2 separate regions of the Homo sapiens genome follow, and region 2 is linked to region 1. Evidence: fine-mapped expression QTL. Tissue or cell type: testis. Region 1 holds a variant in brackets; the other region holds the start of a gene. All regions are shown on one strand. Distances are from middle to middle.

Region 1 (2,756 bases):
TATATCAGAAGTCTTAATCTGGCATCTGGAGCTGACCCTCCTGGGGATCTGTGGACCACCTGAAGTTTCACTACCATGTCCCTACCACACTACTCTGGGGAGAGATCCCAATAGTCATGGCCCAAAGGGGTTGGGAATCTGAATGAAACCACTGCCATGGGCAGGCCTGACAGTGCACCACCCTGCCCCTGTCAGATCACAGCTTGGTCCTTTGAAGACAAGTCTGATCACTAGGGGCTGAAGCTGAAGCTGCCTCATCTTCACCTCAATCCCAGGTGATCAGAATTTCTGGAATGGGACCTGCCTGGACACTGACCCAGGCAGCAAACTCCAGTGAAGCCACCCCAGTTCAGGAGGCACAAAACAGATGTGGCCTCGCTTGGGTATCCAAGGCAGAGCCACCTGCACCTGTCTCACGTGCCTCCTCCAAGACCCTCCCTCCGATGCTCTCACTGGGACAGCCTCACCTTTACTAGTGATGGCTCCAATCGCGTTCACAAACACATAGTGTGCACGGGCACTATGCTGGGCATGGGAGGGGCAAATATACAATGCCTGTCTCCGGGGAGCACTGACTAGTGGGAGACTGTCATAAACGAGGGGCAGAAGGCCCTGAAAGCGGCAGTGGGCCAGGAGGAAAGGGGAGGGGCTTTCCAGGCAGAGGTGGAAAACAGCCTGGGAAAGTGCCCAGACAGAGGGGATGGGAGCTCAGAGTGCAAGTCCCAGCTTGATGGAAGAGGAGTCAAGGGCCGAGGGCCCACTGGGGAGTCTGGACTTACAAGGGCAAGCCACAGAAGGAAGGCGGTCAGCAGCGGAACAGCAGGACCAGGCTTGCACTTTACATCACTCAGGCAGGGGAGATCAGAGGGAGGCAGGGCTCAATTGGAGGAAGAGCAAGAGTTGCAATACTCTACATGAAATCAGGTAAAATCAATGTTACCTGGAAACTGAGTGGATATGGAGAAGGAGTGAGGAGTGCAGGATGCCTCCCATGTTTGTTTCCTGCAGGAGGGATGGAACAGATGAGACAGGGAAGAAGGTCTGCGGCAGGGGTCAGGTAATGACGGTAACAAGGATCAGGAGTTACACCAAGAACAGGCAGAGCCACAG[T/G]GTTCCCTGAGCCAGGGCCCAAGGACGTTTTTCTCTGGCCAAGGCACCTATCTAAGTAACAGTTTGTTAAATTATATGGTACCCTTCTCCTGAACACAAGTTGTTCTCCCTGTCTGGCTTTGGGAGAACCTCAGGAAGTTGCATGCAGCCTGCTCTGGGAATTCTCAGAGTGTTCAGGAAGACCATGGGCTCCCTTCCTCTGCCCGCACCCATCTGCACGAGTCTGCCTCTGAAATTCAAATAGAAAGCCAGCCCCATCTCTGACAGCCGTCCTCCAGGAAAAAGAGGGGTCAGCCTAAGCAGGTTATCAGAGGAACCAGATCCTTCCTGCCACATGAGCATGCGGCTCACCACTGGGGCCAGAGGGCCCAGGACACAATCTCAGGCCTCAAACCCTCATGGAAATGCCCTTCAGAACTGACCCACGGCCCCAGCCCCAGCTGACCACAGAGAGACTTTGCACAGATAAAGCTCATCTCATGGCCAAGTGTGGTGGCTCATGCCTGTAATCCCAGCACTTTGCGAGGCAGAGGCGGGCAGATCACTTGAGGTCAGGAGTCCGAGTCCAGCCTGGCCAACATGGAGAAACCCTGTCTCTACTAAAAATACAAAAATTGGTGTGGTGGTACACGCCTGTAATCCCAGCTATTCAGGAGGCTGAGGCAGGAGAATTGCTTGAACCTGGGAGGCAGAGGTTGCAGTGAGCCAAGATTATGCCACTGCACTCCAGCCTGAGCGACAGAGCGAGACTCGGGCTTTAAAAAAAAAAAAAAAAGCTCATCTCACTGTAGGATAACAGATGCCCCAAAGGCCAGCCCCATCTCAGCTATCGTAGCAAGGTCATCCCCAAAAGGTCATTCCAATGAAGATGCAAAGCCTAATGACTGTCCTTGGCCTTGTGGCTCAGGATAAGTTTGATTAGCTTGAAAGATCCAACTGGACACAGGGCACCAAATCACTACCAATGAACTAAACACACATGCTTGCACACACGTCCGCCCTCCAGGCCTCTGCATGAGCTATTCCCTCTCCCTAGACCTCTCTCCTGTCTTCTTTACCAGGCTAAATCCTTTCTAATCCCTTGAGACTCATAATAGCTTAGTTTATCTTCTTCAACGAGAGGATAAAAAGGATCCATCCTGCCTACCTAGAGAAAAAGCAACGTGTTGCTTTTCTGCTGGGAAGGTCTCTTTCCAAAATCTTATTACAGAATGACCATTTAAGTAAAGGACAAAGGTTGGGGCCTTTTCTAAATGTTGAGGTTCTATTTAAACACACAACAAAAGGCCGGGCATGGTGGCTCATGCCTGTAATCCAAGCATTTTGGGAGGCCAAGGCGGGACGATTGCTTGAGGGCAGAAATTTGAGACCAGACTGGGCAACACAGCAAGACCCTGTCTCTACAAAAAATTTTTAAAAATTCGCCAGGTGCTATAGCACATGCCTGTAATCCCAGTTACTTAGGAAGCTGAGGCTGGAAGATGGATTGAACCCAGGTGTTTGAAGCTGCAAGTGAGCTATGATGGCATCACTGCACTCCAGCCTGGGCAACAGAGAAATCCTATCTCTTAAAACACACACAAAACAGAGTCAGTTTAGGATCCCATTTCCTCCAGGAAGCCCTCCCTGACCTTACTCTCCTACAA
Region 2 (2,756 bases), 23 kb after region 1:
CTGCGTTCACGCCACCCAAGGCATTCCTAGAACCCTGGCACCAACCCCCTTGGGTTTAGAGTCGGCTTCCAGGAGATACTTTCTTTCCCCTAACACCAGATCAAGACTGGACTGAAAAGAGTAGCCTTGGGGCTCCAATAACAGGAAAACAGTAAAACTCTGTTCTGGGCATCCTGTCCTCTTTCACCTGCGTGGCTTCCAGCAGGGCCTGACGCAGAGAGGGTGGAGGGGACTCTGCTAGCCAGGACACGTTCAGGGATGGTCATACCTTGGGGCCCACCTTCCACCTCATTCCCCTGGCATTTCACCAGAATCTAGGGGTGGGGAGAGAATCAGGACTCCCAAATTACCGTTCTAGACTTAGATACCATGGTAGACGGACTGGTCTGTGAATTGAGGGGCTGGTCCACAGAGCGGGGAGGTCAGTGAGAGAAAATGAGTGATGGGTCCTTGAAACGGGGTGACCAGATTTGAAGTGGGGGGTCAGAAGAGCAGGCAGACTGGGAAACTTGTCTTTGAAATGGGGGTGTGGTCATCACACGCTCATCTCTAGCTTTTGCATCTGACTTGTGAAATGAAAGGGGTGGGCTCCGAGGGGTTATCCCTGAAGGGGGGTGCTAGTCTGTGAAGTGGGGGGCGGCCCTGGAGGGACGGGGAGCAGGTCGAGGAAATGAGGGAGCAGCCCATGAGATCGGGCAGCTGCTCCCCGAGTTGGGCGGTCGATCTGTGAGGTGGGGGTGGGGAGAGGTCTGCGAGGTGAGGGTCCCGTAGCTGACGAGGTGGTCTGCCGCAGGAAGTCTCGTCCCTGCAGCGGACGGGGTGGGTCCCTGAGGGGCGGGCTGGTCCCTGGGGCCCTTCTGGGAGATGGTGATGGGTCCCCGAGGTCGGGGGTCCAGAGGTGAAGCCGTCCCAGACGGGGGGTCGCTGCTGTGCGGTCGGTGCCGGGGCCGGCCTGGCCCGAGACTAAGGCCCGGTTAGGGATCCCAGCCCCGCGGAGCCCCGGCCGGCAGGGACAGGAGCTGAGGCCGGGGCCGCCGAGGGTGGGATCCCGCGGCCCCTGCCGCTCGCTGGCGCCCTCCTGGCCCCAAGCTGCGCGCCTCTCGCCTCCTCCTCCCTCGGCCTCCCGCTCACTCACCGAGGTCGTCCATGGCCGGACCACGGGCGCCGGCTCAGGGTCGCGCTAGCTGCCCGTCCCGGGGCCGCTCGTCTATGCCCCGCAACTTTTCCGCCGCGAGCCTCGGCCCGGAACGGAACGCGCCGCCGCCGCGCGCGCCCGCGCCCGCGCCCGCCGCGCGCCCCGCCCCCGGCCGCCCCCTGTGCACGCGCGCCCCGCCCCCGGACACCCCCGCGAGCTTGCTGGCCCCGCCCCCTGCGCACGCTGGTCCCGCCCCCGCCAAGAGCCCGGGCAGTGGGCGTCGCTGGGCGGGGCGGTGGCGCCCCCTCGCGGCTAAGCGGGCAGGTGGGCGGCTCCCAGGCCTCCAGCCACTCCCATCCATCTTTCTGTCCCTCTCAAAGTCACTTGCCTGACCCTGCGGATGACAAATCCGTCCACAGTCAGCCATGTGTCTGTGCATTCGTCAGCCACTGGGTCATCACATGCCTGTCCACTGGACAGTCAGTTTTGCCCACCTGTCCGTCTGTCACCTGTAGGTCACCACCCAGGAGGACCATAAATCAGTACCAGGCAAGGCCCGGAGCCCGTGGCTGACCTTTCCTGGGGTCGTCCTCTGGATCAATGGCAGTGCAGCTCGCAGTTCACCCTTTCTGGCCCAAACCCAATACCTGTGTGGTTCCATCTCTCTTAATATTACTTCCACACAGCCACCCTCCCTAGACACTTTTCCAAAACTGCATGGGGCAGAGGGGTCCCCAGATTAGACATTAAAGGGAAAACTACAGGAAAGTCACACCCAGTGCTCCCACACACTCGGAAATTGGGTAATAATAACAACTACCATTTATTGAGTGTCTGAATAGACAGACACTATATAGCTATTCTCTAAATTAATCCTCCTAGAGGTACTTCCCTACCCGTTGGGATGGGTGATGGCAGTTTGTGGATTTTATATAAAACTGCTCTGCAAGTACAGCTTCGAGTTCCCCTTGTCCCTCAAGAATCCAGGCCTTCTGGGTCAGATCAGGTCCTCCAGAAAGCAGATGAGATGCTGAGATAAAGCTAGGGGTAATGCCCGTGACAGAGAAGGGGAAATAAGCAGGGTTGGGCAAGGAGACTCAGATCTGACAAACAGGTCAACCCATCAGGGAATTCCAGGACAAAAAAAATGAGAAGTCTCCTTGGGCAGAAGTATCCGGGTTCCAATGCTCCCACCATGTTCAGTCATTTTATAAAGGCAGATCCAAGCAGCTTCTGTGGCTGCCACATTCTCCTATAATAAATTCAAGACCAAAGACTGTTCCTCAAACACTCTATTGCGTGGTTTTCCAGCATCTTGCACATACCTCTATTTTGTTTTAGTTTTTGTGTTTTTGTTTTTGTTTGAGATGGAGTCCCAATCTGTCGCCCAGGTTGGAGTGCAGTGGTGCAATCTCAGCTCACTGCAACCTCCGCCTCCCAGGTTCAAGTGATTCTCCTGCCTCCTGCTGGGATTACAGGCGCATACCACCATGCCTGGCTAATTTTTGTATTTTTAGTAGAGATGGGGTTTCACCATGTTGGCCAGGCTGGTCTTGAACTCCTGATCTCAGGTGATCTCCTGCCTCCTGGTGGGATTACAGGCGTGTACTACCATGCCTGG

What was found. PIP is the estimated chance that this variant, and not a neighbour inherited with it, causes the effect.
Region 2: it holds the start of PXN, and the variant in region 1 is fine-mapped to the expression of PXN in testis (GTEx, PIP above 0.99).

What each region holds. Positions count from the first base shown.
Region 1 is chr12:120,241,013-120,243,768 of GRCh38, forward strand. All of the region lies in intron 1 of PXN (paxillin), which reads right to left. Among named protein-coding and RNA genes, the nearest start is that of PXN, 23 kb to the right of the region's middle. The variant T/G (reference allele first, on the strand shown) is at 1,111.
Region 2 is chr12:120,264,482-120,267,237 of GRCh38, forward strand. It overlaps PXN (paxillin), which reads right to left and starts at 1,249. Exons shown (of 15, transcript NM_001385981.1): 1 at 1,136-1,249. The coding sequence starts at 1,148. RefSeq lists silencers at 967-1,116, 1,277-1,556.